Linked DNA regions of Homo sapiens. The protein of the gene in region 1 interacts with the protein of each later gene in a pairwise test. Each region holds a gene or a part of one and is shown in the gene's direction. Other genes may lie near its edges. The genes, in order: REL, CHCHD2, CHIC2, YJU2, UBASH3B, CDK18 and PELI2.

Region 1 (3,500 bases):
CGCCACCACACCCGACTCATTTTGTATTTTTAGTAGAGATGGGGTTTCACCATGTTGGCCAGGCTGGTCTCAAACTCCTGACCTCAGGTGATTCACCCACCTCAGCCTCCCAAAGTGCTGGGATTGCAGGTATGAGCCACTGCGCCTGGCCAATTTTTCTGTTTTTTTATGGAGACAGGGTTTTGTCATGTTGCTTAGGTTGGCCTCAAACTCCTGCGCTCAAGTGATCCACCTGCCTCAGCCTCCCAAAGTGCTGAGATTACTTTAAACAATTTTTTACTAAGAGAAAAATATCCTTTTCTACTGATACTACTGATTTGGGACATATTCTATAATACTTATTAAATCCAACTTACATACATATTTATTGAAAACATTTTCTATATGTGAATAAAATATTTGTTTATTAAAGGAGAGGATACAATCCTATAATTTTTTATCTGCTTTCCTGGTTTCTTTCTAATCAGATACTTACGGCAATAAAGCAAAGAAACAAAAGACAACTCTGCTTTTCCAGAAACTGTGCCAGGATCACGGTAAGAATAGTTTGGATCGATTCATATTTAAATAGGTTTTGTTTTATTTACTTTATTCAGTTTTTCAAATTTTATTATTTTTGTTTTGTTTTGTTGTTTGTTTGTTTTTTGAGATAGCATCTCTCTCTGTCACCCAGGCTGGAGTGCAGTAGGGCAATCTCAACTCACTGCAACCTCTGCCCCCCAGGTTCAACAATTCTCCTGCCTCAGCCTCCCGGGTAGCTGAGATTACAGGCATGTGCCACCACACCCGGCTAATTTTTGTATTTTTAGTAGAAACAGGGTTTCGCCATGTTGACCAGGATGGTCTTGAACTCCTGACATCAGGTGATCCACCCACCTTGGCCTCCCAAAGTGCTGGGATTACAGGTGGGAGCCACCACGCCCGGCCAGTTTTTCAGATTTTAACTGATAATGTTATTTTTCAAATGACATTTAATAATGGAAAAACTTTATCCTAACAGTTAATTTTCCTGAGAGACCAAGACCTGGTCTCCTCGGTTCAATTGGAGAAGGAAGATACTTCAAAAAAGGTATTTTATTTCCTATAGCATATTTCTTGTGATCAGAAAGACCAGTACTTTGCACAATATATTGGAATTCTATTTTTAGGAATGAATAACTGCTTCTTTGAAAATTTTCTCTCCAGATTTTTCATGCTTTCAGTATAGAATGAATTAAGCATGGCTTCTGAAGGTTGTGTTAGAAACTGATTATGTTTTTGGGATTTATTGTTCAAGAAATTACATGTTGTTCATATGGTAGCAATTTTATTAATTACATTGCGTTATGAAAAAATGTTACTGATTTGGTTAGTTACCTGTTTTTATAAATAACATTTTACTGGAACACGGCCATGAATATTTGATTAAATATTATCTCTAAACTGCTTTTTTTTTTTAACACTATGGCAACAGGGTTGAATAGTTCCAACAGAGGCTGTATATAGCTCACAAAGCCTAAAATATTTACAATCTGACTTTTTACAGAAAAAAAAATTGCCAATCCCTAGTTTAGGTAATTCAACCGAGGGCTAATTAGAAGAAGTCTTTTTTCCCCCACGTACATTCTTAAATCATTGCTTTTTCCTGGTTTAGTTTGTAAAGCATTTGTATAATATGTAAATAGATACAGAATTAATTTTTTCTGTAATTTTTTTCTGACTGTGAATTTTATAGTCTCTTAGGGTTCTGTTGTAATATATCTTAAAAGTTATGTGTATTTTCTTATCCCTAATGAGTGTTGTCTCCATCCTTCCATTTTCTCCTAAAAGTGAAGAGTAAGAGATGATTTTGGCTATTTGGAATCCCATTAATTGTAATTCTAATATTTATCTTTTAGTTTTCAAAAATACCTTTATAGAGCCTCAGAAACTAGATTTTCATATTTAATTGAAGTGAAATTACATATGCCAAAGTAACTTGCCAAAATCATTTTACCTGTATTTGTAAAATGGTATATACGTTACAGAATTTCATTTTGGATTCGTGTAATAATTTTAGTGCTTTTTACATTTTTTTATTTGAAATGTTACATTGGTTTCCTTGACATTTTTCTTTATATATATTTGTGTGCTTATGCAATTTTAATTTAGAAATGCTTTTTATAATTTTGTTCATTTTAATTTCGTAAAATAAATTTTTCCTCCCACAGAACCAAACTTGTTTTCTCATGATGCAGTTGTGAGAGAAATGCCTACAGGGGTTTCAAGTCAAGCAGAATCCTACTATCCCTCACCTGGGCCCATCTCAAGTGGATTGTCACATCATGCCTCAATGGCACCTCTGCCTTCTTCAAGCTGGTCATCAGTGGCCCACCCCACCCCACGCTCAGGCAATACAAACCCACTGAGTAGTTTTTCAACAAGGACACTTCCTTCTAATTCGCAAGGTATCCCACCATTCCTGAGAATACCTGTTGGGAATGATTTAAATGCTTCTAATGCTTGCATTTACAACAATGCCGATGACATAGTCGGAATGGAAGCGTCATCCATGCCATCAGCAGATTTATATGGTATTTCTGATCCCAACATGCTGTCTAATTGTTCTGTGAATATGATGACAACCAGCAGTGACAGCATGGGAGAGACTGATAATCCAAGACTTCTGAGCATGAATCTTGAAAACCCCTCATGTAATTCAGTGTTAGACCCAAGAGACTTGAGACAGCTCCATCAGATGTCCTCTTCCAGTATGTCAGCAGGCGCCAATTCCAATACTACTGTTTTTGTTTCACAATCAGATGCATTTGAGGGATCTGACTTCAGTTGTGCAGATAACAGCATGATAAATGAGTCGGGACCATCAAACAGTACTAATCCAAACAGTCATGGTTTTGTTCAAGATAGTCAGTATTCAGGTATTGGCAGTATGCAAAATGAGCAATTGAGTGACTCCTTTCCATATGAATTTTTTCAAGTATAACTTGCAAGATTTAAATCCTTTTAAATCTTGATACCACCTATATAGATGCAGCATTTTGTATTTGTCTAACTGGGGATATAATACTATATTTATACTGTATATATAATACTGACTGAGAATATAATACTGTATTTGAGAATATAAAAAACTTTTTTCAGGGAAGAAGCATACAACTTTGGACATAGCGAATACAAAATTGGAAGCTGTCATAAAAAGACAACTCAGAGGCCAGGCGCAGGGGCTCACACCTGTAATCCTAGCACTTTGGGAGGCCAAGGCGGGTGGATCACTTGAGACCAGGAATTCGAGACCAGCCTGGCCAACATGGTGAAACCCCGTCTCTACTAAAAATACAAAAATTAGCTGAGCATGGTGGTACGTGCCTGTACTGTCAGCTACTTGGGAGGCTGAGGCACAATAATTGTTTGAACCCAGGAAGCAGAGGTTGCAGTGAGCTGAGATCACACCACCGCACTCCAGCCTGGGTGACAGAGTGAGACTCTGTCTCAAAAAAAAAAAAACAAAAAAAACACACTTT
Region 2 (4,036 bases), on another chromosome or scaffold:
TGTAATCCCAGCCCTTGCAGGCCGAGGTAGATGGATCACCTGAGGTCAAGAGCTCAAGACCAGCCTGACCAACATGGCGAAACCCTGTTTCTACTAAAATAAAAAATTAGCCAGGCGGGTTGACGTGCGCCTGTAATCCCAACTACTCGGAAGGCTGAGGCAGGAGAATCGCTTGAATCCGGGAGGCGGAGGCTGCAGTGAGCTGAGAACGCGCCACTGCACTCCAGCCTGGGCGACAGAGCCAGACTCCGTCTCAAAAAAAAAAAAAAAGCATTTCACACCAAGTATCACTAAAGCACAGATCCTTGGGGCCTTTGCAATTGCTGTTCTCTCTTCCTGTAGTGTTCTTATCTTCATAAACACATGGCTTGCTTCCCCACCTCTTCAAGGGCTCCGTTCAAATGACTCCCCCCCGCCCCGCCTAACCTCTAATTTCCAGTCTCCTTCCTCTCTTTTCATGTCACCACCACCTGATTTACGTAGGCGTTTGTGTCTCCCCTCCTTGAAACTTAACTTCGTGAAGGTAGAATCTTATCTGATTTGGTGCAGTATCTCCATAACCCAGTTAGACAGTAAATTTTTGTTGAATTTACCAGTGTATGGTTACTGTCCCAATTCTGGACACAAATTCTATAATACATATGAAAAGGAGCTGAAAATATATAGTAATACATAAATGTAAAACATTATTGCTGCCTGAATTTAACTTTTGCTGACTGGATCCACAGACAAGAAAGAGAAATACCAAATACAACTAATTCAACTCTGTTTATTTTTGACGAAACCGATTTCTTTCATTCAGTTCATACTACGCGTCCACACTGTGCCTCCAAAAATATTTGCCCTTATAACTGAATGCTCAGAAAGGCTAAGAAATCTGCCCAAGGTCCCCTGGCAATCCAGCCAGAGATGTGAGTCACTCTTAAGGTTGGATTTAATACAAATGTTTGAAGGACGGAGCGACAGGCCAGCTGCCCTAGGGAAGCAAAATGCTAAGTGCTCTGATGCGAGGACCGGAGGACAAGGTTCGCGGATGAACCACAGGAACTTCCGGGTTTTAAAGATCCTGGCGCCAAGTTCAGGGCGTTGACCGCGAAGGACGAGGCGTCCCCGTGACGTCCTGCTCTTCCAATGAACTTCAGGCCTGCGGAGACGACGGAGAACGGAAGTTCTCTGCCTGTGTGCTGGTTGGTTGCGCGTTGAGGCCAGCCCCGCCTCCCATCTTCCGGTCTCCTCAGAAGTCGCTTAGCTCTTCGGTGGTTGTCCCACGTCCGGAGGCCTAGCCGTCGCTTACCTAGGATGCCGCGTGGAAGCCGAAGCCGCACCTCCCGCATGGCCCCTCCGGCCAGGTGAGACCATCGCAGGGTTTGAGACCAAAGCGCGGCCGTCCGGACTCTACTGGGGCAATGACGCAGAGGGAGGCCGCGGGCGGGGGTGAACTAAGGTCGGCTGCGGCGTGGGCTCGCCTCTGCCAGGCGGGGGTAGATTGAACGTAAAGCCTATGTTAGGGGAGTGTGGGGAGGGAATTCACTTACGGAAAAAGCTTCCTATCCAAACAACGGGAAAGGCATAACGTTATGGCCAGGTGGTAGGAAGGCATAAATTTTGACCTAGCTTGATTTCGGGGAAAAGAGCACCCAAGGAAATAATCCGGAAATGGTCAGAGGGAGCGTGATACATATGAAGATTTTTAAATACGTGCAGGACATAATTAGTCTTTTGTTATTTGAGAAGGGGTCTCGAAATTGTTGAAAGCATCTGAACGTTGAACAGATGAGGAATAGTTGAAGTTGCTTTTGGTATAATAGTTCAGACGAGTCACTTTGGCCAGTCTTGTTTTGTAATGTGTAAAATGAAGGAATTGGACTAGATTATTTCCCCAGTTGACCATCTTTAAGTCCTAATTAGAATGTTTATTTATTTATATTTTGAGTCAGAGTCTAACTCAGGCTGTAGTGCAGTGACGTAATTATGGCTAACTGCAGCCTTGACTTCCTGGGCTCAAGCTATTCTACCACGTCAGCCTCCAGAGTAACTGGGACTACAGGCATGCGCCACCTGTGCACCACACTTGGCGACTTTATTCTATTTTATATTTTAGCAGAGACAGGGTCTCATTATGTGGCCCTGGCTGGTCTCAAAGTCCTGGCCTCAAATGATCCTTTCGCCTCCACTTCCCTAATCACTGGGATTACAGGCAAGAGCCACCACTCCGCAGCCTATGTTAATTATTTGATCCGTCAATAAAATGTAAACTCCATGAATGCAGAGATTTTTGTCTCTTGTTCACAGTTACATTACCAGCGCCTTGTAGTTACCTAATACTTGAATGAATGAATCCTGTAAGAATCTTTCTAACTTTTAGTAGTCTGTATTTCTTATGACATGTTGGATATGTCTTTAAAGATACTGTGGGCTATCCGAATACATGGAAATTGTTGCAAAGAAGCAGAAAAAACTAGTATGTCCTAGGCTATTACTATTATAAGAAAAGATTAAAGTGGCCGGGCGTGGTGGCTCATGCCTGTAATCCCAACACTTTGGGAGGTCGAGGCGGGTGGATCACTTGAGGTCAGGAGTTCGAGACGAGCCTGGCCAACATGGTGAAACTCCGTCTCTACTAGAAATACAAAAATTAGCTAGGTGTGGTGGTGCGCGCCTGTAATCCCAGCTACTTGGGAAGCGGAGGCAGAAGAATCGGTTGAACCCAGGAGGCAGAGGTTGCAGTGAGATTGGATCGTGACACTGCACTCCAGTCTGGGCATCAGAGTGAGGCCCTGTCTCAAAAAAAAAAAAAAAATTAGGCCGTGCGTGGTGGTTCACACCTGTAATCCCAGCACTTTGGGAGTCCGAGGCGGGTGGATCACCTGAGGTCAGGAGCTGGAGACCAGCCATGGTCACCATAGTGAAACCTCGTCTCAACTAAAAATACAAAAAATTAGCCGGAGGTGGTCGCGGGTGCCTGTAATCCCAGCTACTCGGAAGGCTGAGGCAAGAGAATCGCTTGAGTCTGGGAGGTGGAGGTTGCAGTGAGCTGAGATTGCACCATTGCACTCCAGCCTGGGCAACAAGAGCGAAGCTCCATCTCAAAAAAAAAAAAATTGAAGAGAGAAAATGATGTAAATAATTTGAAATGAAAATCTTGAGGTCCATTTTAATATGTAAGTTATTTTAAGTTGACAATTTCCAAAACTGGTTGGAATTGGGAACTTGATGTTTTTTTCTTTTCTTTCACAGCCGGGCCCCTCAGATGAGAGCTGCACCCAGGCCAGCACCAGTCGCTCAGCCACCAGCAGCGGCACCCCCATCTGCAGTTGGCTCTTCTGCTGCTGCGCCCCGGCAGCCAGGTCTGATGGCCCAGATGGCAACCACTGCAGCTGGCGTGGCTGTGGGCTCTGCTGTGGGGCACACATTGGGTCACGCCATTACTGGGGGCTTCAGTGGAGGAAGTAATGCTGAGCCTGCGAGGCCTGACATCACTTACCAGGTGGGAATTTAGGCAGCATTTCCCTTCCATGGGTGGATTTTATGAGAAAAGCCAGACGTTTGTAAGTTCCTTAAGTGTAGGAATTGTCTTTGATTTTAGAACCCACTGTGCTGTTAATAGACAATGGGTTTTAAAGCCACATTTGGCCGTTGAGTTACTGCCTTAGGCCAGCACCAACAAGTACTGTACAAATTGTGTTTCTTCCCAAGGAGGAGACTTACAACAGTCCACTTGACTCACTGTAAAACAACCACTTTTCCCTTTGAATATTTCATCCCAGTGACACTTCCTACTAATCTTGTCTTGATCTTAGTTAACAAATCAAAAATCTCGCATAGCTGTGTGTTCTTTTACGTGATGTTTGCCATTACCCATCTTTCTGATGTGTGTGGGCTTTCTAGTCTAATGAGCATAGGTGTGTATACTCTTGTATTTCCGGTGTGCTTGAAACTGCTCCATCCAGTTTTCTATAATAGTACCATTTTTCCTCCCTGAAGCTTCAGTAAACCATTTAGTCTTGATAACAAGATAATAATTCCACTTTATTTG
Region 3 (3,500 bases), on another chromosome or scaffold:
CTCAGAATTATCTAATTGACTAGAGGAATCATTTAATCAAAAGCGGCTATCAGATTGATACACAGTGATGCCTTAGTGGCCCTGAGGTATGTTGGAGTTTGAGAACCTTCTCTAAATGGCACTTTCATTTAAATTTCATATGTGGGCTGTTCTTTTTGGTTTGCTTTCTTCTGTCTTTGTAATTGGTCAGCTGTTCTTGGAAGCAAAACAACCAACCAGCCTTATTAGAACTGCATATAAAGTAAGAGAAGTTCATCCTGATTGTTGAATGTAGATGCTTGGGTTTTGATGCTTGGGTTTTACAATATTTATTTTGTTTTCTCAGAGTATTTTTTGCTTAATCTTTGATTATCAGCTGTCTTGTTGAGGTTTCCTGATAAGTAATTTAATGAGTATTTGTTAAATGCCCATTTTTCTGCCAGGTATTGCACAAAGCTCTGGGTATATAATGAAACCCAAAATGAAACACACATAGTTTCTGCCCTCATGGAGTTTACAGCTAATAGACAAATTTTATCTGATAAAGTTGCACTGAAGGAAATGGATGAGATCCTGTGATTGAAAATAATGTGATTAGGAAGAACCTCTCTGAGGAAGCTAACATTTAGGAAGGATGAGAGTCCTGTCAGGAGCCCCTGGATCTGGAGAACAGCAGGTGCCAAGACTCCAAGCCAAAACAAGCTTGACTTGCCTGAGGAACTGAAAGGATACCTCTATATTATGGCTAGAATATAGTGAACAAAGGGGATAATGTCTTGAAATGAGGTTGGAGGGTTCAGTAGGGGCCAGAAAGGATTGTAAAGGAATTAGAATGAAATTTAGAAGGTTATAGAAGCAGCTTCCATAAGACATGATAGTGGCCCCAGCTAGGGTGTTGATCTCTAGATTAAAGGAGTTATTACAGTTCTGTGTGTAAACCATCAAATTTCACAGCTTTTCCTATGAGGTATGGAAATACATAGCAGTGGCCACTTTTGCTGTCTAATTCCTCAGTTCTTATGTTTGTTTTGGTCTGTTTATTTTTTAATTTTAGCTTTGTGTAGGCTGAGGTTAAATAACTGGCTACCCTTACTGTTCACTGGGAGTGATTTTGATGGCATACCTGCACTTTCTGTTCTGCTGCTGGGGCAGCTAGTATGCCAAGAGAATAGCACATGCCAGAAGTAGAGAGTGTTTCCCACAAGATCATAGATTTTGAAGTGGGAACCCTCGTAAATGTGATATCCTTTAGCTGTAAGGTGTGTAGTATGTGACAGCCCTCAGTACATGATTCATTAGATTTGAGGAAAAAAATTGTGTTTTTTATATCTTACATTTAAAACTCAGTTGCATCCGTAGGAGCTGAAATGTTCTCACAGTGTCCCTGAAGAATAATTTTTTTGTTCTTAAGCTTTTTTTCTCTCCCACTATCTACTTAGGATAGAGTTGGTTGGACTTGAAGGTAACCTAACTTTGTTATTTTGATTGATAAAAAAAGTGAATGTACTATATATAGTGAGCTTCCTGCAAGAACTTCTTGTTTTATTCTCTTTGATCTTGCATTGTAGTCATAATGTGGGCCTTGGTTAGTTCAGTGGTGGAGTTCCTATGTACCCAGTCTCCTTTCTTGGTCTTTTCTAAACTGCTCAATTATAAATGTTACTTGAAATGAGTATTTTTGTTAGTCTATATTGTAAATCAATTCAACCATATATTTTGCTTAAATGAACATAATTTAGCATCATTATTTTGCTCTTAAGATTTATAGAAGTATGAAGAATATTCTAAAATATGTATAAATCAGATATACAAAAATCTTTTTTCTGTAGTTCAGAAAATTTAAAAGTTGTTAAGTTAGATCAGCTGCATCCCTATATCGCCAGAAGTTAGTTATACTGTGCATTTTCATCAGTATACACTTATATAGCTTTCACTGCTTAACAACATATTTAATCTGTTAATAATGGAAATTATAACCTTAATAATTAAAAATTGATAAAATGCTAATGCTAGATTATTATAAGACTATGTATAATGGTGAGGTTTATGATAGAGTAAATTTAACACATGCTTTGGAGAATTAAGTCTTTGATTTCACTAGTTTCCTGAATGAGATTAAACTTTCATAAAACCAGATGAACTCAAATATTGTTCAGAATGTGGTTACAGAGTTAAGATTTTTAGAATTATTCTGAAACCCAAATATACGTCTCCAACTCCAGGGTCTCTGTATCTTTTGTATAAATAGAGTATACTTTCAATTAGATCCCATCCTCCTTGAGCTACATTGATATTCAGACGTATGTTGAATCAACCAGATAAACTTAAAGCATGATTTATATGCATCAAAGCCTGTTAATTTTTTTCCATAGTTATGACTTTATCTCCAAAACTAGCTAAAAATTTGAGTTCATTGAGCTCAAAGTTCAACATTAGGAAATAAGCACTCTCTTCATGTGCCATCTGCATAACCAATATGTTCAGTTTGAAATTTCTAGTTCATATGCTCATAGGTCTTGTCATATCTGTAGGAACATAAAAATTCTCTGTATCTATAGATTTGTACAGGTGGAATGTCTCAGAATCCAGAATATCCAAAATGGAATTCATAATCTACACCCCAAATCAGCTTCAACGGCAGCCTTCCATTCTCAGTTGATGGCAGATCGAGGACCCTGTTTGTTTAGATCAAAAACTTTTTGATGTATTCTTGATTTTCCTCTTTCTCTTTCACTACATCCATTCTGTCTTGACATCTTGGCTCTGTCTTCAAAATTTGGCCCTATTTTGCCACCTACACGACTGGAGTGAATTGCCAGTCTCCCTTCTGCCTTACGCTTAATGTATTTCTTAAGTCAGTTATGGTGGCATGTACCTATAATCCCAGCTACACGGGAGGCTGAGGCAGAAAGATCACTTGAGCCCAGGAGTTTGAGACTACACTGGGCAACATAGCAAGAATCCATCTAAATTACAAAAAATATATATATATTTTTTTCTTCCCCCTGTCTCCACCTTTCCACCTTTGCCTCTCCTCTTATACAACCATTTTGGTACATCTGCTATAGTGATCCTTTTAAAACATAAGTCAGTTCAAGTCTTTTCTCTGTATCAGGCCCCTCAAAGGTTCCCCATCTCCTTCAGAGTCCTTTTAATGTTCTACCAGACCCTCCCTGATCTGGCCCATCATTACTTGTCTGGTGATCTCAGTTTCTGCTTACTATTGGCTTCAGTTTATTTTGATTTCTAATTATCGATGGCTTTACTACATCTTGACTTCAATTTAAGCCCTCTCTCTGTCAGCTCTGCATGTTACCATCTATTTGTCTTATGTTCAGATACCTCAAGAGAGAGCTGATTGAGTTAGTTAATGTTATCTAAGTTAGGCAGGACTGTTTGGCCTTGCCATTCCATGTGCTGCTACCCAGCCCAGGGATTAGCTGTTCTTAAAGCAGATGCCCACTTGTGATCTAATTAGCCAAAGTATAGGGAGTTCCTAGTTAGGCATGCGGAGTAACAGA
Region 4 (2,754 bases), on another chromosome or scaffold:
GTGAAACCCCATCTCTGCTAAAAATACAAAAAATTAGCCGGGCGTGGTGGCGGGCGCCTGTAGTCCCAGCTACTCAGGAGGCTGAGACAGGAGAATGGCGTGAACCCAGGAGGTGGAGCTTGCAGTGAGCCGAGATTGTGCCACTGCACTCCAGCCTGGGCGACAGAGCGAGACTCTGTCTCAAAAAAAAAAAAAAAAAAAAAAAAAGAAACGATTGTTCTTTCTTCCTTTTTTGTTTGTTTGTTTGACACAGGGTCTTACTCTGTTGCCCAGGCTGGAGTGCAGTAATGCAGTCCCAGCTCACTGCAGCCTGAACCTCCTAGGCTCAAGCAATCCTCCCACCTCAGTCTCCTGAGCAGCTGGGACCACAGGCACGCACCACCACGCCTGGCTAATTTTTCTTTTCTTTCTTTCTTTTTTTTTTTTTAGACAGTTTCACTCTTGTTGCCCAGGCTGGAGTGCAGTGGTGTGATCTTGGCTCACTGCAACCTTCGCCCCCCGGGTTCAAGCGATTCTACTGCCTCAGCCTCCCAAGTAGCTGGGATTACAGGCGCCTGCCACCATGCCCGGCTAATTTTTGTATTTTTAGTAGAGATGGCGTTTCACCATGTTGGCCAGGCTGATCTAGAACTCCTGACCTCAGGTGATTCACCTGACTCGGCCGCCCAAAGTGCTGGGATTACAGGCGTGAGCCACTGTGCCTGGCCCCTAATTTTTCAAATTCTTTTTGCAGAGATGCGGTCTTGCTGTGTTGCCCAGGCTGGTCTCACGCACCTGGCCTCAAGCAGTTCTCCCGCCAAGGCACAGGGATTACAGACATCAGCCACCATGTCTGGCCCCAAGACATTTTTCTAAAAGACATTTTCTTTGAAGCTGTGTCCTCTGATTAGAGTTCTCACACTGTGGTTCTCACATAAACCACTCCCAGAATTCATTGTCTACAACTTCCTCTCTTCTTTTCTTTTTTTTTTGAATGAATCAACAGAGTAAAGGTACTTTGAAAGCAGTCCAACCTTTTTTGATTTACTCCCTCAGTCTTGTGCCTCTACCTGATTTGATAGCAGGTGTTTTATTTGGTTTTAACGTGATTCACCTTCATCAAGACTTTTCAAACCTTCACCCTAACTTTTATAGGAAGGAATATCTCCACACTTGCGTTTTCTTGGTTTATTTTATTTTTATTTTAGAGATGAGGTCTTGCTCTGTCACCCAGGCTGGAGTGCAGTGACGCGATCACAGCTCGCTGCAGCCTCCAACTCCTGGGCTCAAATGATCCTCCCACCTCAGCCTCTCAAGTAGCTGGGACCCACAAGTGTGTAGTGTGTGCCACCACAGCCAGCTAATTTTTAATTTTCTTTTCTTTTTTTTTTTTTAGAGGCGAGTCTGTATGTTGTCTAGGCTGGTCTCAAACTCCTATCCTCAAGCAGTCCTCCCGCCTTGGCCTCCCAATCCTTAGTTTAGTTTAATGATGATGAGTACCACCTGTAGAAACAGGTTTGGGAACTAACCTAGGTAACTTTTTTTTTTTTGAGACGGTCTTGTTCTTTCGCCCAGGCTGGAGTGCAGTGGCACGGTCTCGGCTCACTGCAACCTCCGGCTCCCAGCCTGTAGCAATTGTCCTGCCTTAGCCTCCTGAGTAGCTGGGATTACAGGCGTGTGCTACCACACCTGGCTAGGTTTTGTATTTTCTTTTTATTAATAAAGAGACGGGGTTTCACCATGTTGACCAGGCTGGTCTCGAACTCTTGACCTCAAGTGGTCCACCCGCCTCGGCCTCCCAAAGTGTTGGGATTACAGGTGTGTGCCTCTGTGCCTGGCCATCTGTGCCTTTTGACTTCTTTTCCTCATTTTGACATCAGCCCAGAGCTACGACATTTTTTTTTTTTTTTTTCGAGACGGCGTCTCGCCCTGTCACCCAGGCTGGAGTGCAGTGGCACGATCTCGGCTCACTGCAACCTCTGCCTCCCAGGTTCAAGCGATTCTCCTGCCTCAGTCTCCCGAGTAGCTGGGATTACAGGCGTGTGCCACCAAGCCTGGCTAATTTCTTGTATTTATAGTAGAGACGGGCTTTCACCGTGTTAGCCAGGATGGTCTCTATCTGACCTCGTGATCCACCTGCCTTGGCCTCCCAAAGTGCCGGGATTAGAAGCATGAGCCACTGCGCCCGGCCCAGAGCCACAACTTTAAGGAGGCCTCTCCACCACCTTAGCAGTGGCCGCCCCTCACACCGTCAGCTTGGCACTCAAGGTCTCTGCCCATTCTCCATCCCACCTAGCCTGCCCTGGCACTTCCTGAATCACACTGTGGCTTCTCATCACGCCTTTACCCATGCCATTCCCCTTACCTGGGATGCCCCCTTTGCCAAGCACTCGCTTGGTGAACTCCTACTCGCCCTTCAATACCCAATGCAAGACGCCCTTCCTCTGAGAAGCTCATCCTCACAATTCAAGCTCACGCACCCTGGCTTCTCTCTCACCCAGATGGATGTTATCCTGGGTATTGGTCTCCTTGTCCCTCTCCCTCCCCACACGGTGAGCTCCGTGAGGGCAGAGCACCCATTGGGACTTCCTTAACCCAGTGGTTACCACTTCCTCTATTTAAACATAAAACAGATTGAAGAGGCTAGATGCAGTGGCTCACGCCTGTCATCCCAGCTCTTTGGGACGCTGAGACGGGAGGATCGCTTGAGCCAGGAGTTTGAGACCAGCCTGGGCAACATAGCGAGATCCCGTCTCTACAAAAATTAAAAATGTT
Region 5 (3,500 bases), on another chromosome or scaffold:
CAGGATAGAAATGATTGAATGTGGGTAAAATGCTTAGAACAGTTCCTGGCACATAGTGAGCAATCGTGAAGTGTTAGTTACTGTATTAGCTTCCTGTGACTGCTGTAACAAATTGTCACAAACTGAGTGGCTTAGAACAGCAGAAATTTATTCTCTCACAATTGTAGAGACCAGGAGTTGAAAATCAGTATCGCTGGGCTGAAATCAAGGCATCAGCAGGGCCGTGCTCCCTCTGGAGGCTCTAGGGGAATCCACTCCCTGCCTCTCCTACCTTCTGTTGGGGGCTGGCATTCTTTGGCTTGTGGCTGCATCAATCCAATCACTGCGTTTGTGGTCAAATTGTCTTTGTTTTCTGTCTGTGTCCAATCTTCCTTGGCATGTCTCTTATAAGGATACATGTGGTTGTACTTAGGGCCCACTTGGATAATCCAGAGTAATCTCCCCATCTCAAGATCATTATCTGCAAAGTCCTTTAAAAAAAAATGTATAAGGCGGCATTCACAGCTTCTAGGGATTAGGATGTGGGTGTCTTTTGGGGGATCATTATTTAGCCTATCACAGCTATTATTATATTACTACTAGCACTGCCCCTCTTTACCAAAGAGGTAACAAGAGCAGGCCTGGAGAGAGGGAGGTTGGGTTTGCTGCTCTTTTTCTTAAATTCTCTGCCTGGAAGGGAGTGAAGGTCCTGGAGGTCACCTGATCTAGTTGGACTCCTTGCCCAGGCTTGCTTCCCTCCTCTACTTCAACCCAGAAAGGCTGATGTGGTCGGCCTTCCCCCCAGTAACTTAGACCAGTATGAAGAGGGGCCCTCGGAGGCTTCAGAGAACAGGCATTTAACTTCATTTTTGAGAGTTGAGAAGAAAGAGCAAGGGCATCGGGCTTAGCTCATCAGAAGCTTCTCTCTTGAGCTTTATGCCTGGAGGGCTGAGCATAATGAAAATCCAAAGCCCCAAAGAGCAGTGATGGTCTCCTGGGTCTAGAAGACTTGGATGTGATGCTTTAAGAAGGGGTAAGATGGTTGTCTCAAACCTGGCCCTTTTGACAGACTGACATTAGCCAGGGCTGACAGCTCTAGGCCCTTTTGACAGAGTGACAGCAGCCAGGGCTGACAGCTCTAGTTTCCCCTATGGGTGTAACTGGGTCTGGTGGTGTGCGGCACCAAGAAGGGGCACTCAGGCCAGGCTCTTGGTGGGCTGGCAGAGAGGGTTGAGGCCAGCAAGGCTGGATCCCACCCAGCCCGTGCTGGGCTGCACTGTGCTGTGGTCTTGCAAAAGTCACTTAGTCCCCTCAGGGCCATGCTGTTGCCCTCTGAGGGGAACGCAATTAATGACTGCATGCTTGTTAAGTGCTTGACAGAGCTAAGAGGACCAGAGGGCTGCAGGGCTGGCTCAAGCAGGGTGACCTCAGGGTGTGCTCTCTCTAGCTCATTACTCCCTGGAGCTGGGCTAGGTTTTTTCCATTCCACTATATGAACTTCAGTCCAACTTAGACACTGCTATAGGAGAATTTGCCTCATGGAGGACTGAGAAGTGGCGATTTCACGGTGTGTGTGTGCGTGTGCGCTCGTGTGCAAGTCCAAGTTAAGGAGGTGTTCGGGAGGCATCAGGAAGGAAACCTTTCAAAGGTCAAAATGGCCAATCGCTTCCTTTTTTCTATGCCCACTAGCACTTCCCTGTTTTAAGGGTTCTAAAAATAAGGGTCCAGCTTCCTTGAGGCTAGTGAGGTTGGTTGGAAGGAAAAGAAAGAATGTATTGGGGGCAAAGACCTGAGGAAGAGGAGACCTCACAGGCCAGGAGAGGGTCTGAGCCTAACACCGGAGAAGATGGGACAGGACTCAGATCAGAGCCATCACTTTGCACAGCCAGATCCGATGTCAGAGCACTGTCATCCCCCTGCTGACCTCTGGTTTCTGGGGAGACAGGCTCTCATCTCTTCTGTAGCTTGGGGCTGATGCTGGGCCTTGGAGCAAGTCACTGAATAATTGAATTGGAGGAATCCTTGCTGATACAACCCTGATGAGTTTTTTTATTATTTTTATTTTTTGAGGCTGCTGGTGGCTAGAACTTTGTCTACAACAAATGGCTTTTTAATGTTTCCAGTGATTAAGAGATAATAGTCTTGGGAAGGACACTGTGGCAGGGATCAAAGGTCCTAAGGTCTGGTCTAGCTTCTGAATGATATCTGCACCTTTTAGGTCTTCTATTTAACCTCTTTTCCTTAATATCTTCACCAGCTTCTGTGCGTGGCAAGACCTGTCATGTGTCACGGGCCTTTCCAAAGACAAAATGAGATAACAGACAGAAAAGAACTTGGGAAAGTTAAAGATAGGATCAGGATGCAAGATGTGATTGGGGCATTATTGTGTTGGATTGCAAGAAGGGAGAGGAGGTGAGATGGTGGTTGAGGTGTCTGGCGAGGATTTACGTGTATTATTGGATTGTCCTTTTTTTTCTACTGAGAATATTTGAACAATGCCAAATTAAAGAGCAAGGCAGTGGCAGAAGGAAAGAGCTGGAATGAGCGCTTTTGACTTGGCTTTGGACAGTAAGCTGTGTTAGCTATGCCTCACTGCCCAAAGATAAAAGCAGCTCCAAGTTGGCTGCATGAGGAGTTGAGAAGCGGCATGTGGAGCCCATGAATTAAAGTATCTGGTTTCCCTGGCTTTTTCCAGCTTACCTGTTGGTTGACATTGGATCCTCTGAGAACACTTGGCCAACCCAACATCTCTGAAATGTAGCTGACTCTGGCGTGGGGGCTGCAGCTGCTTTCCCAGCCTTGGATAGACAGAAAGAGGAAAAACTGGAACCCACCTGGAGCTGAAGGGCTCTTATAGGTGGGCAGGGCAAGGAAGTCTCTAATCTACCTGCTGTGACTGTGCACCCACATAACACGCCCTTCTATCTGTGTTATTATACACTGTAAAAATTGCTCTTATGTGTATTAGATACCCCACAGCAGTCTTGTGAGGTAAAGCACACAACATATGCTTTGTTTTAAGATGAGACTGGAGGCTTAGAGGAGTTCAGGACGTGTCTAGAGTCACACAGTTGGTATGCAGGGACTGCATTGCCATAAGAGCCTCAGGCTAAACTGCAAGTCTCCTGAACTTTCCAGGCTACACGAGGTCCTGGTTCCAAAAAAAAAAAAAACAAAAAAAAAAATACCTTGATATGCTTTTTTTCTTTTTTTTTTTTTTTTTGAGACAGAGTTTCGTTCTTGTTGCCCAAGCTGGAGTGCAATGGCGTGATCTCAGCTCACTGCAACCTCTGCCTCCTAGGTGTCAAGTGATTCTCCTGCCTTAGCCTCCCAAGTAGCTAGGACTACAGGTATGTGCCATCATGCCCAGCTAATTTTGTATTTTTAGTAGGGACAGAGTTTTATCATGTTGGTCAGGCTGGTCTCGAACTCCTGACCTCAAGTGATCATCCCGCCTTGGCCTCCCAAAGTGCTGGGATTACAGGTGGGAGCCACCCTGCCCGGCCAGCCGATGTGCTTTT
Region 6 (3,500 bases), on another chromosome or scaffold:
GCAGCTGGAGGGCCACCACTGAGCTGTGTTTGGGGGCAGCCAGGAGCATGCGCTGCCAGACAGAGGACCCTTTCCAGGCTGGCTGAGGACAGAAGGATGTGATCATTAAGCAAAGCCAACATGTTACTGACCCATAATCCCTTAAACCAGGAGGATTCGGGAAGGGCCTGGTCGCCTTGGCAACTAGGTGCTGGCCAGTCGCAGGGCTGAGAGCATCCTCCAGGAGTGGGCTGTGCCTGGTGCTGGTGCATGGGTAACAGCTGGGAGCGGGTGCAGGGCGGCCCATCATAGGGCTCACCCCCTGGTGCCTTCTTGCCAGCATGGGTGGAAGCCCTTGTGAGGCCTCAAGGGCAGTGTGTGCAGAGCAGGATGAGAGGGGGGCTGCACTGAGCGTGTAGGAAACCATGAAGGGAAGTGGAGGGGAGGTGAGACAGCGCTGCTCTGGGTTTTCAGGGCAGGAGGGAGAAGGGAGGGTCTGCAGGAAGAAGCAGTTGCATGGGTCTCATTGGGTGGCCAGCAGGGCATCCTCTAATTCAGAGGGCACGAGGAGCTGGGTAGCCTGAAGAAGAAAGCTTTCATGGTTGGGGACAGGACCGTGGGGGTGGGCAGAGCAGCTTACCCCGCTCCTCCATGGTGTTCTCGGTAGGGGATACCTGCCTGCTTGGAGGGCTCTGGCATGGGAAGAGGCCTGCAGGGATCAAGCCTCATCTTCCCTAGGGCTCGACTCTATTAATGGCAAGCTTCCGTGTTTCCCCTGAGACCTTCCACTGCTCCTGACCTCCTGTATTTCAGCTGGAGAGAAGGTGCAGCTGGCCAGCTCTGATGCACTCTTCCCTTCCTCCTCTTTTTCCCCTCTTGCCTCCTGGGGCATGCCAGAGCAGAGACCTTCAGGTGTCAGTATCAGAGGTGAAATGAGGTTTGGACCCAATCATGTCCCAAGGGTGTTGGCCAAGCTGACATTCAGTTTACGGGCCTTGGTCAGTAAGATTTATTGGCTGTTGACACATTCAGGCCCTTGGACACAAGTTGGTAAATTTCTGCTGGTCCAAGGACTGCCTGGTTCTGGCACCCTCCCTGCCACCCCAGCCCTTCCCCCAGAACTCTCTAGACCTCCAGCAGCTAAAGGGCTTAGGTCTGGGGGGCCTTCAGGATCCTCTTTGCACATCATGCCTGCTATTATGACCAATACTTTGCTGGACTAGGTGGTCCATAGAGAACTGCACAGGGCGTGGCGGGGCGGGCGGTGGGCAGTGGAGGCAGTGCTGAGGGTCACTGGGAGGAAGAAGGTGACTGGGAAGAAGAGGGTGAACACCCACCCTCAGAGGGGTCAAACTTTGCAGAAGACACAACCCTGGCTCCCAGTGATGGTGGCATACAGGGCGACAGAGCTTGATGAGAGAGCTGAATTCCCAGTGGGTGGAGACCTGGACTGGTTGCCTTGTTCTTTTCAACTGCTCTTCTCACACTTCCCATCTCAGGACCCGGCTGCCCAGTCCCTCATGATCATGAACAAGATGAAGAACTTTAAGCGCCGTTTCTCCCTGTCAGTGCCCCGCACTGAGACCATTGAAGAATCCTTGGCTGAATTCACGGAGCAATTCAACCAGCTCCACAACCGGCGGAATGAGAGTGAGGGGTCTGGGCCCACCCAGCACCTCTCCCACCTACCAGACACTCCCCAGTCACCTTCCCCTCCCCGCCCACCCCCTCCCCACTGGCCTTAGGGGAGGAGCACAGCGCTGGGGGAGGGGGGCTACCCTTCTCTCCCTCAGGACAGAGAGGCAGGGAGGGGAGCTGACGCCTGTCCCTCTTAGACTTGCAGCTCGGTCCTCTTGGCAGAGACCCCCCGCAGGAGTGCAGCACCTTCTCCCCAACAGACAGCGGGGAGGAGCCGGGGCAGCTCTCCCCTGGCGTGCAGTTCCAGCGGCGGCAGAACCAGCGCCGCTTCTCCATGGAGGTAAGGGCCTCTGGAGCTCTGCCCCGGCAGGTGGCAGGATGCACGCACAAGGGTGTGCACAGGAGGGCAGCTGCCTTACAGCCAGACTTTGTGAGTTCAAATTCCACCTCTGCCATTCATTAGCTCTGTGACTTTGAGCAAGTTACTCAACCTCTGTGCACCATGGTCTCCTTGTCTTTAAAATGGTCATCATGGATTAAATGGGTTTATCTATGCCAAGTGCTTAGAACATTCCTGAATTTAGCAAGGGCTAGACAATTTGACTATTTGATCCACACACATATGCCCAAGTATATGAAAAAATATACTTACAGAATCGGTGCCTGTAAGGGCATGAGACTGATGTTGCACAGATGGTGATACTGTGGCCCAGAGAGGCAGAGAGTGACCTGGCTGTGCTAAGGTCACACAGCAGCCCCGGGTGTTCACGTGTATGTCTTGAGCACACACTGGGAGCAGCTGTGAGCCTGGGGTCACAGCCTGTGATTGGGCTCTGAATGGTTGTTCTGCAGGGAACGCTAGGTCCAGAGTGAAAGTCTGGAGCCCCACAGCCCTAGCTACCCTGAAACCAACAGTGGTGTCCCCATCTCATCCCTGTCACCACAGGACGTCAGCAAGAGGCTCTCTCTGCCCATGGATATCCGCCTGCCCCAGGAATTCCTACAGAAGCTACAGATGGAGAGCCCAGATCTGCCCAAGCCGCTCAGCCGCATGTCCCGCCGGGCCTCCCTGGTGAGTCCCAAGAGGGTCAGAGGACACAAGGTGGGGTGATATGCCCTCCCCAGCATGGGCATATCAGTCCCAGCTGAGGCCTAGATGGGATTTCGAGGAAGATTCCTGGGCCTCTGGTGCCACCTGCTGGCTTGAGTGCATTCAACTAGCTCGTCCTCCTACATCAACATCCATTTCCTAGATGGGTCTCACTTGGGCTGGAATGGGACTCTAAGCCCACAGTGGGTCCCACGGTCTCCACATGGTTAAGATCAATAGGCCAGCTGGCATGTGCCTTCCAGTCCTAACTGCCTATCAGAGCTGTTTGGGACATCTTACAAAACACAGACTCTACCTCCAGACACCTATAGAATCAGCCTCTCCGGCTAGGGGGTCCAGGAATCCGTCTTGTTAAGGGTTGGATACACCTGAGCTAGAAGTGCGCTGATGAGAGACACAGTCAGAGAGGTGGATTCTGAACTGGACACTCAAGGTACAATGGGAAAAAAGGCAGCACTCACTCTGGAGGAGCTCGTGGTCTCAGTCGGAGACACAGGTAGTCAAGATGTGCAACAATCCCAGGTGCCACAGCTCTGGGCTCTACACTCTTGGCTGTCCTGGGAGGAAGAAACTCACACTTTCACGAGCTCTGTCCTTTATCACAGGGATAAAGGGAAAAGGAGCCCCTTCCACCATGGAGTCTCATCCCTTCCCTCCCAGAGGCTGGAGTTGGGGGAGGCGTCATGTCTGTGGAGCTGCTAAGGGCTTCAAGCTCACGGCATTCTATGTCTCTCCCTCTCAGTCAGACATTGGCTTTGGGAAACTGGAAACA
Region 7 (2,807 bases), on another chromosome or scaffold:
TATCCAGTGATCAGATGAGGAAGATGAGGCTCGGGGAGGATAGGTTACTCCCCCAGTTCTGTTTTTGTGGGATAAATTGCTTCCCTGTGTTATCTTCAAATATTTTTTTGCTTGTTCTGAGAGGAAAGAATCTTGGAGTGATTTGCTTGATTTTGCTTTTAAAAGGCATGTGTCTCAAACTTGTTGTAGGTGGAAAGTGAGACCAACGTCCTGCAGGACGGCTCCCTCATTGACCTGTGTGGGGCCACTCTCCTCTGGAGAACAGCAGATGGGCTTTTTCATACTCCAACTCAGAAGCACATAGAAGCCCTCCGGCAGGAGATTAACGCCGCCCGGCCTCAGTGTCCTGTGGGGCTCAACACCCTGGCCTTCCCCAGCATCAACAGGAAAGAGGTGGTGGAGGAGAAGCAGCCCTGGGCATATCTCAGTTGTGGCCACGTGCACGGGTACCACAACTGGGGCCATCGGAGTGACACGGAGGCCAACGAGAGGGAGTGTCCCATGTGCAGGACTGTGGGCCCCTATGTGCCTCTCTGGCTTGGCTGTGAGGCAGGATTTTATGTAGACGCAGGACCGCCAACTCATGCTTTCACTCCCTGTGGACACGTGTGCTCGGAGAAGTCTGCAAAATACTGGTCTCAGATCCCGTTGCCTCATGGAACTCATGCATTTCACGCTGCTTGCCCTTTCTGTGCTACACAGCTGGTTGGGGAGCAAAACTGCATCAAATTAATTTTCCAAGGTCCAATTGACTGACGCCCTTGACAGCCATCTACGACTTTATTAACAGGTTACTGTGAAGATTTTGCCACTAACTCTAGATTTTACCTTTTTGTAATGCTGTTTATCAGAGGAGGGTGACAGGGGCTGGAAATAAAGAGAGGGGACATGGTGATGAAACATGGCAGGAGTGTAACAGATACCAGTGGTGTGTTGCATGCTCAAAACAGCAGCGTCGTCATTGAAGTCTGCTTGATTAAACCATAATATCTTTGTAATAATTGGATTTAAAATGCTATGCTTCTATTTTTAACCTTGGGTTTTTAACCAAGTTTTTTTTTTTTTGTAATCTTGGACAAGACTTTAAATCATATTTTACAGATGTAGAAGAAATTTATTCAAAAGTGTGGGCTCATGAAGTTCACTTCAGTGCAGTGTGGTGTAGGTGTTACGCGAAGGGCGCACAGTGTCTAGAAATACTTGATCGTGGCTCAAACCTGACCAGACAGCAGAGGGGCGGCTCTGTACAGTGTGACTGGTGGACAGATGGCCTTAGGCACAGGTGGTTTTGAAATCTGGGGCTTTTTCTGATTTATTTTTCTGACTTGTTGGGGGAGAGAATATTCATAACTTGTGGGCTTTTTTTTTTTTTAACTTCAGTGGAATTTACTTTAGATATTCATTCATCAAATACATGGGACTTCACAAACAATTTTCCATAACTTTTTAGCCTGTCTTTTGTTATTTCTGCCTAATATGATTTGCCCCGATACTCATCTTGCACGGCCAGAACTGTTTGGTTGATTAAAATACATCAGCTCTTAAAAACTCATTAACTGAGGGTAATTACAGTAGTAGACATGGTCTGGGTACTATACTACCATGTTTATTTGCTGACTGAATTAAGATTTAAGAATGATTAAAAATAAGCTTTTACTTTTTAAAACCACTTGAGGTTTCATAAAGCTTGGGGTTTTTTTTTTTCCTTTGTTAAGAAAGCCAACCAATCACAATGATATAGTCATTGTTGTGCACTCCCTTTTCACCATCTGTCACCTTCCCTTGCAGCTTAAGGAGCCCAGTAAGTTTTGAAAATGTTTGCGAATCAAACTAAATTTAAGTGGGATGATTAGATATACACAACACCAAGTGGTACATCTGCAGAGATAATTCAAAATTCCTGCTTTTGAGAGAGCAAATGAGTGTTGCTGAGGAATAATTAAATGAGAATTTCATAGGAGCTCCACCATTCCTGTTACTTTCATTTCATTTTGATTAATAATTCTTGGATGCTTGGCATCGATCGTATCACTGCTCCTAGAAGGTAAAGATCCTTTAGGACATGAGACTGGTAGAAGCTGGCTGAGATAAAATAAGTATTTATTTAAACTAATGTTCTCTTAATTTGACCATTGCAGATTTGGGTGACTTTTTTTTAACCTTTGTACATATACGTAATTTATATGATTCTAATGTACTATATCCATACTTGAATTGGTTTTTTCGTATTTTGCCTACTGGCAAATATTTTGCCTATTTTCAGTCGTTCTAACCTATTTGAATACGCTTTTCCTTAAAGTGATACGATAATATTACTCTTGATTGCTGCTGCTTAATTTGATGTAATATGTTTAAAGTTCAGCCTCTCAGTTTTAATATAGCTTTATTTTTCAGTGGAGATCATTGTTTAGGATGAGACATTTTTGGTTTTGGTTTTGTTTGGGTAAATTTTAAATGGTGTGAAAATCGATGACAACAGTCCTCTTACAGATAGCTTGCTGTATTCTGTATAGCTTACTCTACCTGCAGACAGAAAATGAAAGAAAAAAATGGACTTGCCTAGAATAATATATTGAATGCCTTTTGATTTAGCCAGAGTCTCTGATGATTAGCTTTCACTGATAGAGTATGTCTTTTCAGCCTGTAATTCTTTGGGCCCCAAAGAATGACAAAGGAGGCACTCGTTCTCTTTTCTTGCTGTATGCCTAGAAAGTGGTTGAAGGATTCTTGATGCCCTAAAACCATCTTGTAAGCTAAATGGTCTTGCATCCAGAAAGGCCAGATTTTACCTACCAAGAAAAAAAGAT

What was found.
Region 2: the proteins of REL (region 1) and CHCHD2 interact in binary tests that used the Homo sapiens proteins (3 or more experiments, as listed by UniProt).
Region 3: the proteins of REL (region 1) and CHIC2 interact in binary tests that used the Homo sapiens proteins (3 or more experiments, as listed by UniProt).
Region 4: the proteins of REL (region 1) and YJU2 interact in binary tests that used the Homo sapiens proteins (3 or more experiments, as listed by UniProt).
Region 5: the proteins of REL (region 1) and UBASH3B interact in binary tests that used the Homo sapiens proteins (3 or more experiments, as listed by UniProt).
Region 6: the proteins of REL (region 1) and CDK18 interact in binary tests that used the Homo sapiens proteins (3 or more experiments, as listed by UniProt).
Region 7: the proteins of REL (region 1) and PELI2 interact in binary tests that used the Homo sapiens proteins (3 or more experiments, as listed by UniProt).

Annotation. Positions count from the first base shown.
Region 1 is NC_000002.12:60,919,574-60,923,073, forward strand, and holds part of REL (proto-oncogene c-Rel), read left to right. Parts: intron 1-467; coding exon 468-536; intron 537-809; coding exon of another isoform or gene 810-905; intron 906-1,000; coding exon 1,001-1,069; intron 1,070-2,189; coding exon 2,190-2,962; 3' UTR 2,963-3,500. UniProt on the Homo sapiens protein: Proto-oncogene that may play a role in differentiation and lymphopoiesis.
Region 2 is NC_000007.14:56,103,677-56,107,712, reverse strand, and holds the start of CHCHD2 (coiled-coil-helix-coiled-coil-helix domain-containing protein 2 isoform 2 precursor), read left to right. Parts: upstream 1-1,236; 5' UTR 1,237-1,299; coding exon 1,300-1,349; intron 1,350-3,237; coding exon 3,238-3,487; intron 3,488-4,036. UniProt on the Homo sapiens protein: Transcription factor. Binds to the oxygen responsive element of COX4I2 and activates its transcription under hypoxia conditions (4% oxygen), as well as normoxia conditions (20% oxygen).
Region 3 is NC_000004.12:54,054,606-54,058,105, reverse strand, and holds part of CHIC2 (cysteine-rich hydrophobic domain-containing protein 2), read left to right. Parts: intron 1-3,500.
Region 4 is NC_000019.10:4,264,080-4,266,833, forward strand, and holds part of YJU2 (splicing factor YJU2), read left to right. Parts: intron 1-2,754.
Region 5 is NC_000011.10:122,658,722-122,662,221, forward strand, and holds part of UBASH3B (ubiquitin-associated and SH3 domain-containing protein B), read left to right. Parts: intron 1-3,500. UniProt on the Homo sapiens protein: Interferes with CBL-mediated down-regulation and degradation of receptor-type tyrosine kinases. Promotes accumulation of activated target receptors, such as T-cell receptors and EGFR, on the cell surface.
Region 6 is NC_000001.11:205,521,669-205,525,168, forward strand, and holds part of CDK18 (cyclin-dependent kinase 18), read left to right. Parts: intron 1-1,478; 5' UTR 1,479-1,499; coding exon 1,500-1,629; intron 1,630-1,814; coding exon 1,815-1,957; coding exon of another isoform or gene 1,958-2,047; intron 2,048-2,563; coding exon 2,564-2,689; intron 2,690-3,470; coding exon 3,471-3,500. UniProt on the Homo sapiens protein: May play a role in signal transduction cascades in terminally differentiated cells.
Region 7 is NC_000014.9:56,296,411-56,299,217, forward strand, and holds part of PELI2 (E3 ubiquitin-protein ligase pellino homolog 2), read left to right. Parts: intron 1-189; coding exon 190-756; 3' UTR 757-2,807. UniProt on the Homo sapiens protein: E3 ubiquitin ligase catalyzing the covalent attachment of ubiquitin moieties onto substrate proteins. Involved in the TLR and IL-1 signaling pathways via interaction with the complex containing IRAK kinases and TRAF6.